Linked DNA regions of Homo sapiens: region 2 is linked to region 1. The links come from fine-mapping of genetic effects on gene expression. Tissue or cell type: tibial nerve. Region 1 holds a variant in brackets; the other region holds the start of a gene. All regions are shown on one strand. Distances are between the middles of the regions.

Region 1 (6,341 bases):
TAATAATGACATTTGAATGTGAAATCCGGGACTTTATGGTTCTTGAACATGAGTACAGAAATTATAGACCAAAGGTTGTGTTATGTATAGAAGGCAGTTATATAGAAACTGTAATTTCTTGGTGTGCAAGGGAATTCATCACAAGCATCCTCTGAGGTAGTATAATACATCATCTTCAAAATTGACTGGAAGTTTAATGGACATAGACCACAGTAATTTAAGAGCTTAGCATTTTTTCTCACATTGCAATTGTTGTGGAAAAAAAATATCATGTGGGTGTCAACCCACTTCTACTTAATCTTAACTCCAAGTAAATAAAATTGGAAAAAAAAACTTTTTTTTTTTTTTGGAACGGAGTCTGGCCTTGTCGCCCAGGCTGGAGTGTAGTGGCGCAGTCTCGGCTCACAGCAAACTCTGCCTCTTGGGTTCACGAAATTCTGCTGCCTCAGCCTCCTGAGTAGCTGGGACTACAGGTGCCTGCCACCACACCCGGCTAATTAAAAAAATAACTCTTAATATAGACAATAACAAAGTGATCCAAAAGAAACACTTAATACAAACAACAGTTAAAAGGAAAAATATTTACAATAACAAAACATAAAAACCCAAATGTTAGAGAATGAGGATGAAAATCAATAAAAGTACATTTATCATTACATTTAGTATACATAGAATTGGCTGGGCATGGTGGCTCATGCCTGTAATCCCAGCACTTTGGGAGGCCAACGCGGGTGGATCACAACGTCAGGAGTTTGAGACCAGCCTGACCAATATGGTAAAACCCTGTCTCTACTAAAAATACAAAAATTAGCTGAGCATGGTGGTAGATGCCTGTAGTCACAGCTACTCGGGAGGCTGAGACAGGAGAATTGCTTGAACCCGGGAGGCGGAGGTTGCAGTGAGCCGAGATCGTGCCACTGCACTCCAGCCTGGGTGACAGAGCGAGACTCCGTCTCAAAAAAAGAAATAAAAAAAGTATACATAGAATTAAGAAAGATTGTGGGCGAGGCATGGTGGCTCACACCTGTATACCAAAGCCTATCATGAGCCTAAACTGAACTCTTTGTCAGGTTGTAGGCATTTATGGACTTTTGGGAGAGAACTGAGGTGCCAGGGCAGACCTTCAAGCAAAGGAGATTAGAAGCCTCTTGGGAAAGAAACAAAGTCCTGAAGTAGAACTCTCCAAGGAGAGTCTTGCACACCTGCCTGAAATCACAAGATGGTAGCCTTTCAGTCTCTGGGTTTTATAAGTGCTATCTGTTGCTTAAAATTCACATTTATCCCCATCTTCACTATACCATGCCCCAACACCTACGGGCTCATGACTGACTTTAAGATCGAGATAAGTCTGTAAATAAAAACTGAAAAGGGTGTTTTTGTTAAATTTCCATTATATGTCTAGAGAAAAATTAGCATTGTTTTGAAACTCATCTAGCATAGTGAAACTGCAAAATGTAAGAGAAACATCACTATCCCTGTATTGGCATAGAACACAATACTGTATTCAGGAAAACTCTGTAACTCATTCTAAAGGTCCAGGGTCCAGCATTCTTGTTCCAAAGGCACGGGGTGCCACAGCATAGCACTGCCTCATATAATGATAATGAAAGCAGATGCTAAAAGCTGGTGTCATTAAACGGTTGAGTTTGTTTTGTAGAAACAGCTCAGGAACAAATACTGATGACAGTTTGCAGGCACTTTCAGGGAAGAGTAGCTTTAATAAATGAGTATGATAAAAAATGATTTGCATTGTAAAACAAGTATTTTTCCTTTAAAAATTTAATTTAAGATTTCTACATTCTATTCTATAATTTTCTGTTTTGCTGTAAGCTTACCTTACTTTTATATTACAAAATGTTAAAAAATAATATTATACTAGCAAAATTTTGGAAAGAAAACTTGCCCTAAGTTGAATCTTCCTGCTAGTTTGTGAAGAAATGAAATAATTGCTCTATGACAATAGATTTTGTTCTACACAGTGTCATCCAAAATCAGAAAAATAGTGCTATATTCAACAACTATTTGTAATGTTAATTCAAAAACTGCAATCATAGAGACGGTTCAGGATCAGGACAGTGTTATTTAATATTGTGTTCACATCACTGAATTTTTGAATGGCACTAAATTGGGTGATTTGTCTGAACTACCTGGTTGTTTTGGTATCATGCAAACATCTTGCTAAAGGGACTCTATTTATATGCTCTCTTGTGATGAAGTTGGGTTATACATTACTATGAGCAATTACTAATAGCATATTAAATTTTAAAGACCGATTTTATCTACCAAGTCAGGAGAAGTGATAGGTCATGAATTTAAAATAGGAAAGTAAACATCCAAGTTTTTTTTCAAACTTGACTTCCATGTTTTAGCTGCAATTTCTTACCCTTATATAATACTCTCTAAAATAGGCAATTTACTTCATCAAGGCAATAATTTAACTAACATTGTGTTTAACCTCTAATGACCAAATATACAAAAAAGAAAAAATACCCACAAAGGTAAGTATTCTTTAGGCTTAGCAAAAGTGACTTGCTATTAATATTATTCTCAATTTGTTTCGAACCTGTTGAGTTGAGCAAAACGGCATGAATGAGGTCCTAGCTGAGATTATTTATTGAAGCAAAAAAAGAATTAGAAAGGGTGGTGACACATATATCATTGCCACTGTTACAAACAGCTTCGAAAATCCAGTCTCAGTTGAGTATATTAAACTCTATGAATGACTGGGCAGGCAAAATTATAGTCCACTAGGATAATTATAGTTCACAGTCATATCTAATGGGATCTGCATAAATCAGGCTATTGTTTGCCACAAAGTGTATTTATACTTGTCAAATGATTGTAATTGGACATTTACAAAGGACCATTTCAATTTATAAACATGACTTTTTAAATGAATATTTATAAAGCACTTGTTAAAGAAAATAAATTTACTCAGGTAATTTTGAACTGTGATTTTACAGCATGTAATGTAAAACCATCTCTTACTAAGAAAATCTCCACTAAGTGTCTGTTGATGGAAAACCTCAAAATTAGATAGAGAAAAAATCCTTTCAGTGGTTCACAGCGAAAACTTATTTTGTAGTATCAAAAACAGTAGCGTTAAGTTTAAATTCCAAGCTGTGGGACTAATTTTTATG[G/A]CGGGAATAGCACCAAGCCTATATACAATGGCACACAGATGCAGATCCCTTATCTATACAACTTACATAAAGCCTATCAGATAATTCTACCTATATTTTAGAACTTTGCAAAAAAATTGAGTACTAATTTATTCCAAAATAATGAGGAATTATGAAGTTAAGTAGGTCTTTTAGACTACCACATATTCTACTATGGATAACTTCTTTTATTCAGACTTTAAGTTTTTTCATCTTATTCAGTATTACACCGTTTACTAGTAAAAGGATCTACAAAATAGATCCTTGTCACAGAGCCTTTGACATTACCTGAATTGAGGTGGAAACAGCCAATATAAGGACTTCATTCTATCAAGTCTTTGACCAACCACTTACTCTGTAGCTAATTTTATTAGTCTGATAATTCTATATATCATAGAACACATCGCTGGAAAATGTACCCTGTCATTTATTACTAGCATATGACCCACAAAATTCTCCTTGGATTTTGATTCCTTTCAGTTGGGCTGGACCATCCGAAGCTTAGAAACACCCCATGAAAATAAATTTAAGACAGATATGCTTCTGTGGCCTGTTCTTGCCCTTTATCCATCATGGGCTCTGCTTGGTTTTCTCTTTATCATCTAAGGTTGGATATCTCCTCCAGGTTACACAGGACATAGCAGTTGCTTGAGATGGAACAATCTAAAAGCAAATGATGTAAGTTAAAAGAACATACAACCTGATATAGTTTGGATATTTGTTCCCTCCAAATCACTTGTTGAAATTTGATCCTCAGTGGTGGAAGTGGGGCATAGTGGGAGGCACTTGGGTCATGGGAGCAGATCGCTCATGAACAACTTGTTGTCACCCTCAGGGTAATGGGTGAGTCGCTCTATTAGTTCCTGGGAGAACTGATTGTTAAAAAGAGCCTGCCACCTCCATTTTCTCTCTCTCCTTTCTCTTTTGCTTCTAATTTCTTTTGCCACGTGACCTCTGCACATGCCAGCTGCCCTTTGCCCCCATCTCACCGTGAAGTGAAATCCTCACCAGAAGCAAATGCTGGCACCATGCTTCATGTACAGCATGCAGAACTATGAACCAAATAAACCTCTCTTCTGTATAAATTACTCAGCCTCTGGTATTTCTTTATTGCAATGCAAATAAACTAAGAAATGGCCATTTCAGTTCTATGTATAACTGCTTATTCTTACTGGCAAAACTTCCCCTTCCAACCAACTCTGCCCATTAGAGTGATCCAGTTCTGTTGCTGAGAAATCCATTTTTCCCTACATGTGCAATGAATCTTAACCTCTTCAGGAAGAGGAAAGGCAGTTTCCTATTTTCTCTAGAGATTAGGATGTCTCCCACCTCACCCTAATATCCCAATTATATTAGGAGCGTATGTTTTCACAGTTGCACTAGCATCTATTCCACTTTCTTCTTTGTACATCTTTCCCATTTGTTTTACTACCTAATTTACTCTCATCATTCAAGATTCAATTAAACCAATATATTGTGTTGAAATATTATTCTCTCAAGCACATCAGATACTCCTCTCTGAAATTTCTGCATTATGGTGTTGATCAAACTTTTTACCGTATTCTTAAAAGCTGCATTTCCTACAATGAGATGCTTTGTCCAGAAGCCTGGGTCATTAAACTTTAGCATCTAATTAGCAAATTTTCAGTATATGAAGAGTTCGTGATAATTCTTGTGAAGGCCTCAATTCCTAAGAAAAATATGTCACCTATTTTAAAACTTGAATATAGTTTCCATGTTGCATTAGCCAATTAACATGATTTATCTAAATCCGCAGATAATGAAAGAGAGGCACCTGACTCAAGCAATGGATGTCGGAGCAGAAGACTAGAAGGCAAAGCAAGTACATGCTACCTGTCTGGGCAAGACCTTTCAGTGCCTTTCCATATTTCAATGGGTAGTCATCTGCACACCTTCCAGTCTTTTCTTCTGTATTGCAAAGGCTAGAAGCCTTGGTACTATATTTATCAAACTTACTTTTTTTTTTTTTAACAAATCTTCAATGTGATTCTCATTTTGCTAAGATACATTTGTATGAAATTTTGAGATAGAAAAGTATGAATAAGAAAGCATTGCCTTCTTTCTCAGTGGCAGCACACAAACATATGGACTTCACAGACACGACATTTTGCAGCAACTTCTAGATCTTCCCCCTGTGAGTGCCCTGGGACATCATTACAATAAATAAACCATTCAGGAAGTCAAAGGATGGTAGTTTTCACAGAAGCATTGCAAGCATTGAGAAGAAAAATAATCCATATCTAGTAGGTTTATTTTTATGAGGATAAATCTCTGGCCTCTCCATATGGAAAAGGATCTCCTGTAAGTTAATCCTGCCATCAGGTTGCTGGCTGGTTTGCCTGGGATATAAAGCCCTATTAGTGAGCCAGTGGTGACCTTTGCTGCTGTCTGGTTAGATGCGCAGCAGCACTGCAGTCACCCTTTCTGAGGGAAAGTTCACGTTTTGAAGCCTAGGTAGAAATTCTCTCTGTACCACCATGGTTTCACTGAATGTGAGTCAATTGAGGCATCACCAGGGTGGCAAAAAGTTATCAAGTCAAGCCCAGTCAACTCAGAAAATTCATCTCAGAATTCCATTTTACGTCAATTTCCTGGCATAATGTTGAAACACTCTGCCCTTTAGTATCTGGAACAATGTCTAACACAATAATGCTTAACGCCGGGGAAATGAGGGCATAGGTCTGAATCTCCGGAGATTCCTTTTATGGGGAATATCTTTTAACACCCCTTAGGAAACAACATCAACTCACTAAAGACAGTACCAATAAGGTCTCCTGCCTTCCCCAGGAATAAAGATTTAAATCACACCAGCTCAATGCTGGTTGAGGGCAAGGGAACAATGAATGGCTTGTGGAAGGGGAAAGTTAAAAATGCAAATTACAACTTTGTGCCCCATTTAAGGAAAGAGAACTTGAATAGCTATGCATATTTGTGTTTTCTTCCTTGCTTTGTTATGTACATATTTGTATATATCAGCCACTAACTTCTTATCTTTCCTTCATTCTTCACTTACTAATTTACATAAGGTACTGGTAGTTCATATAAATTCATTTTTAGAGACTAAATATAAAAGCAGAATTGCAACTGAACTTAAGCAAGAATCATTATCACCCAGGGCTAGATTTGGTGACTAATAGAAGTTTGGATCTCTATTTTTAGAGG
Region 2 (6,341 bases), 410 kb before region 1:
CCACATGATCTATTCTCCCTAACTCTATTTTCCTTTGCTTCATCATTTTTTATATGTGGTCACATGGGAACTCCAGATAAAAGGGGAATCTAGGAAACTTAATTTTGACTTTCTGGTTTCTATAGAACACATACTAGAAGATTGAAGTGAACTCTGAGTCAGAATATCCACCTTATCTGACACATCTTGGCTTTTAATATATTCTAAGTTTTACTGGAGTAAAATGCATTAAATAAGGATAAAATAAACAAAGGAAGACCCCACCTAGGCCTATTTTTAATGTTTATAAATATGTGCCATAAGAATAGACTACAAATATCTACATTATGCAGTAGTATTAACTTACATTTACATATTCTATGCTCTTGTTATGTGCATATAGTATAACCTATATTATGTAAGGTAATTAGTACAAAGAAAAAATAATGAGTATGTGTGGGATATCCAGAATACATCAAGAACTCTCACAACTCAACACCAAAGAAAAAACAACCCAATTAAAAAATGGGCAAAGGACTAGAGTAAACATTTCTTCAAAGAAGATATACAAATAATCAAAAAGTACATTTAAAAAATGCTTACCATGGCTAATCACTAGGGAAATGCAAATTAAAACCGTAATGAGATACCACTTCACAAACATAGGGTAGCTATTATAAAAAACAAAAAGAAAAACAAACAAACACAAAACCTCATAAAACAGAAACTGTTGGTGAGGATGTGGAGAAATTTGAACCCTTCTGTATTGCTGGTAGTAATATAAAATGGTGCAGCCACTATAGAAATAGTATAGACGTTTCTCAAATTATTAAACATAGAATTTACATGTGATTCAACAATTCCACTTCTGGATACATAGTTAAAAGACCTGAAAGCAGGGACTTGAATAGATCTCTACACCAATGTTCAGTACTCACAGCAGCCAAAAGGTGGAAACAGCTCAAATGTCCACTGACTGAATGTGGTGTATACAATGGAATATTATTTATCCTTATAAAGGAATACAATTCAGATACATGCTACAACAGGAATAAACTTTAAAGATATTTTGCTAAATGAAATAAGCCAGGCACAAAAGACCAAATATTGTATGATTCCACTTGTATGAGGTACCCAGAGTGCTCAAACTCATACACGCAGAAAGCAGAATGGTAGTTACCAGGGTCTAGGATGGATGGCAAGTTGTTTGCTAATGAGTTCAGAGTTACAACTTGGAATGAAGAAGAAGTTCTGAAGATTAATAGGAGTGACAGTTGCACAACAATGTGAATGTGAATTATACACTTAAATATAGTTAAAATGGTATATTTTATGTTAGATATATTTTACTATAATGAAAAAGTTTATGTGTCATTTAATACTGTGGTTGAGATTATTTTGTTTTAAAAATTTAGAATAGTCTTTTAACTTTACATAAAATTTGCAAATATATACTTCTTTAACTCACAGGTAGTTTACTGTATTGATAATATCTTCTATTGATATGCTACATTTGTAAAAAATAATGAAACAATGATGATATATATTAAAGTTCAAACTTTGTTAGGATTTCCTTGTTTTTACCTAATGTCCTTTTTCTGTTCTAGGTCACCAGCTAGGATACCATGTTAACATTTAGTTATTATATCTCTTAACCTCCTCTAAATTGTGACAGTTTTTCAGGTTTTCCTCTTTTTTAATAACCTTGATAGTGGTGATCAGTACTGGTCAGGTGTTTTGTAGAATATCCCTCAATTTGGGTTTGCCTTGTGTTTTACTCAGAAACTAAGGATATGGGTTTTTGGGACGATCACAAATGTAAAATGCCATTGTCATCACATCACATCAAGGCTATATTCTATCAACATGCCTTATGAAAGTTGACTGTATTCTATCAACATGTTGATGAAAGTCTTTTACCTGGCTAAAGTACTCTTTGTCAGGTTTTTCCTTTGTAAACAATGTTCTTCTCTCTTTCCATACTGTGCTCTTTGGAAGAAAGTCATTATATGCAGCTCATACTCAAGCACTTGTAAGTTGCACTCTACCTCCCTAAGGAAGCAGTATCTACATCAACTATTTGGAATTCTCCCGCACAGGAGATCTGATTAGTCCCCTTCACTTAAAAAATATATTCAGTCATCCATTGATATCAGGATGGAGTCATGGATATTTATTTTATACTTTGGATTATAATCCAATACTCATTTTCTTCTACAAACCACTCCAGATTTGACCACTGGGAAATCATTTGCTTTTCTCCTGTGTCTCTTTGATATGTCCTCATCATTTTTAAAAATCACTTCCTTACTTTCTGGCATTGCAAAGATGCTCCAGGCTCATCTTGTATATTCCATGTCCCAGCCCTTGAATTAGTCAGTTCTCTAAGGATCCCTGATACCTTTTATTGGGGAAGGTAAAGATAATGCAAACCAAGATCTGAGCACTGGGTGAGTTTGCTGCTACTGCAGTGTCACAGTGTCTAGACTCTTCCGGCCGAGAGAGTTTGGAAATCTATGTGTGTATACTAACCTAATACATGGGTGTATGCACAGGCTACTATACACATATATCTATAACTTTCACTATATATGTCCACCTGTATGTATATTATGCTAAACATATGTTTATATTTAATTCGATGACTCCAACTCTAATCCAATGTTGTGTGAGTCATTCTAGACTTCTTCCCTTGCTTATCTATAATCTCTCTCTTCATCGGTGAGAAACATGATTCCCACCATCTGCTATTCATTTACTTGTTTGTTCAGTTCAAGTATACATGTATAGTAGTTTCAAAATTGTTAACATGTACTCCTTTGAAAAATGAACTTTATCAAATAATGTACAGTGTTTATGTATAGTTCCTTTTGCTTTTAGTCATTTAGATTCCACTCTATTCAAAATTTAATTAGGTCAGCACATTTTCCCTCCACACTTGAGGAGTTATTTTGTAAATTGGTCTAGGAAGTTCTCTGCTGAGGTGACTTTTGATGAGCAGATCTGAACTGAGGGAGGTAATAAGCCACATGGAAATTTGGTGATATAGCACTGCAGTTGGAGAGAACAAGTTCAAATGAGGAAGAAAGGGAATTGTAACAGCATCACAAAGGAATTTAGTTTGGATGTAACTATGAAGCTTATGGAAATTAATAGGTAATATTTATTATCCTAAACCATTAGTGGGATATTGGAATAACACACTGGTTTTCAAAAATCATGAGCTTAAGAATTATCTAGGTGCTTGTTAAAAACTTAGAACATTCTGAAACAAAATGTTTTGCTTAAAAAAGCTAGTGTCTTTAGACTAGCAAGTTCTAGTGTCTCTAGAGCCTTATTCTCATTGTTTAGCTCTACAAGAGGAATAACAACTATTACAGTTTCTTATGTATGCATTCAGAAATATGAGTATAGCATGTGCTGTTTGTGTAAATAAACTCGCACACGTTAAAGATTTTGTGACAAAACAGAGATTAATGGATGCCACACCTCAAAGTATCTGATAGAATACATTTAGTCTGGGGATAAGAATCTGCATTTTAAATAAGCACCCTAGGTAATAGTGTCTCAGGTTGTCTAGGAATCAGACTTGGAGAAACACCAGCTAAAGCAGTAGGAAGCCATCAGCTGTGTGAAGTAGAAATAAGCATAGAGCCTAGAGTTGACTTTAATGGTGAACAATGAGCAATTGTGCTGAGAAACAAAGGAGAGTGGATGAAGAACACAGCAGCCTGCCTCCACAGCTTTGGGTAAGCAGAGATCAGGAAAGCTCATCAGTGGAGAGGATCTTTTCAAACTCAAATTTTGTAAGCAAATTATGTGTCTGAAGATAGGATAAATTTATGATTATAATTTACATTGTGATTATTAGAGGCAGTATAGCATAGTGCTTTTGGAGCGAGACCACTTAGGTGGGAATCCTGGCTCTGACAATTACTAATGATACAACCTGGGAAATTACCTTAACATGTCTCTGCCTTTTCCTGTCCATAAAATGGATATAACAATAGTACTGACCTCACAGGAGCATTAATTCAGTAGCACTAGGTTCATAATAAGAGATCAAAGAATAGCAACTCTTATATATTTGGTTGCTTGTAAACATGACGGTGTTTATTTGTGTAGAGTATTTTACTTGAAAATGGGTATATGTCTAGGCCTATATCATTGAAGAACTCTACATTAAGTATTCTATTTAGCCTTGTCAGGCAATACAAAAATATATCATGAAAATATATTTTGCTTTAATGGAAATACTAGCTTATTCTTATTCTATGAGACTGTGCATGAATAGAGATGCTAGATATAATATGAAATAATCTACTCAACTAAAGATGGTTAGTTCTTTAGTTTTCAGGTGTAGAAAGAACAAACAATGTAGTCATTTTAACGTGACCTAGATGAAATTTCAGGAGAGGTCTTGAAAGGTGATAGATGTTTAATTCTGGATAATATTCACCTTATTGGTTTATTTGAAAGCAAAAGGACAGTCTAGGATTATCTAGGATCTTTCCAGCATGTCCTAGATTAACTTTTAAAGAATTTTCTCAAAATATTTAACCCTGGGAAAAAAAGCTTTGGGTTCAATAGTCTAGTTCACAGTTCACAAATAATTGGTTCTGGGTGCAAGCTAGAAGTTTGAATTTATGGTGTTCTATAAATATGAAATTTAAGTATTAACTATTGTTCCATCTGTTATCCCTCTAGAAATGATAAAATGATAGAAGTTCTAGTCTTAGGGAAAGTTGTTTCATGTGATGGCAGAGAAATTGGCATTTCATCGGAAGACTACAAAACGTGGAAAAAAAAAGATTATTTCGCCAAGGTGATATTTCTTCTCCTGAGTAGAATCATCCATCTCCTTTCTATGTGGTATGTTTACATACCAGACACACTTGATGGTTGGGTGTTGCTGTTATCACAGTAGGAAGATTTCTCACTGAACCCTATGCTTTCTGGAAGTAGGTCCTTCATGGTTTCCACTGTGCTTAGTGGGCCCAATGCTAGAGGCTTTCTAATCCAGTTTCCCTTTTGTAAGGTAGAGGAAGAGTTATTACCTAGAGAAATGCAATAGAGAATATGACCTTATGGTTTCAATACCCTTACTGTAGACATTTGACCAATCCATCTTTCAGTATCAAGCTTCACCTCCACCTTCCCCTTCAGCCAGTGACTTCAGTTCCTGAGCCTTTCTATAGTTGTGCTTTATGAACAGTTTTGCCTCTCACTGTCTTCTCTCACTGCAGTCAGTTTTTCAGCTTTCTCTGTTCCCTTTCCTTTTTCATCTTCACCTTGTAAAAAATGTTGAAATCTTGTCTATCTTGGTTGCCTTTCTAGTTCTATTTCCGTTTGTGTATTTATATGTATATTTTTAACTGATGTAATGGAATTTGAAGTGTGCGCAGATATAAACATATATATTCAACATCCCACGTTGATTCTGAAGTAATCCAATAAAATACACACTTCTATTGCACAATCCTCATTTTGTGTGCATATAGCTACTAAAATTATAGATTAACTCATTTGTCAAAATTGCCTGCTGAAATTATATTGTTTATTCATTTAACTGAATTGCTTAGTATGAAAATAATTCAGAATCTTAAAGAAGTCTAATAGCAAATATTTTTTATGAAAAGTATCCTTATGATCTGGCATTTTTATAAAGAGACTAACCATAATTTTACTTTTTGCTTCCTTATCTTTCTAGGGTTCTCAACTTTAAAAATAATATTATTTTTGATAAACAAGCACCACACTGTTCATACAATTCTTTTATGTTTTTTTCTTTTTGTTTCAAGGACTCTTTCCATTTTTCCCATTTATCTATCGAAATCCTAACTATTCTTCCAAATACTTAAAAAACACCATACGTTTTCCACTTTTTTAACCAGTCAATATATCTCCTTGCTTTAAAACACCAAGACAAGTTTTCAATTCATCGAATCTATTAAAATCTCACTGACAATATCCTAGTCCACATCTGCATTGTCTATTTCTTGAACTATGGTAGGATATTTATGTATGTGTGTGTGTTTATTTTTTTTTTTTGCCACTAATCTTTCCCTCTTAAAGCATTCCCTGTTCTTCTATAAGAACTATTCTCCACATAACTTTTAAAAATCATTTCCTTTCCAAACAACGTATCTTGTTTTGCTCACAATTACAGAATAATACCAAGCACTGCAACATGGATATTCTTCCAGTTTTGCCCTTCTGGCTTCTTACACTCCTCCGTGTCTTCATTCCTACATCATGATAATATCTTTGACTCCAGGAAATGCTTGTATTTCATGTACAAATAGGTAAAAATTTACTAATAGAAAATTAATATTTCTTCTGACAATACTAAATGAATATTG

Which allele goes with the higher level. Alleles are on the strand shown, and positions count from the first base shown. SD is a standard deviation of normalised expression in the study named.
For the expression in tibial nerve of the gene that starts at base 3,666 in region 2, A is the low allele of the variant in region 1 and G is the other (small effect, 0.25 SD a copy in GTEx).

What was found. PIP is the estimated chance that this variant, and not a neighbour inherited with it, causes the effect.
Region 2: it holds the start of LINC02511, and the variant in region 1 is the best candidate, but not a certain one, in a credible set for the expression of LINC02511 in tibial nerve (GTEx, PIP 0.55).

What each region holds. Positions count from the first base shown.
Region 1 is chr4:136,796,829-136,803,169 of GRCh38, reverse strand. LINC02511 (long intergenic non-protein coding RNA 2511) reads left to right here. Exons shown (of 4, transcript NR_149105.1): 4 at 4,936-6,341. Among named protein-coding and RNA genes, the nearest start is that of LINC02510, 390 kb to the left of the region's middle. The variant G/A (reference allele first, on the strand shown) is at 3,141.
Region 2 is chr4:137,210,124-137,216,464 of GRCh38, reverse strand. LINC02511 (long intergenic non-protein coding RNA 2511) reads left to right here and starts at 3,666. Exons shown (of 4, transcript NR_149105.1): 1 at 3,666-3,728.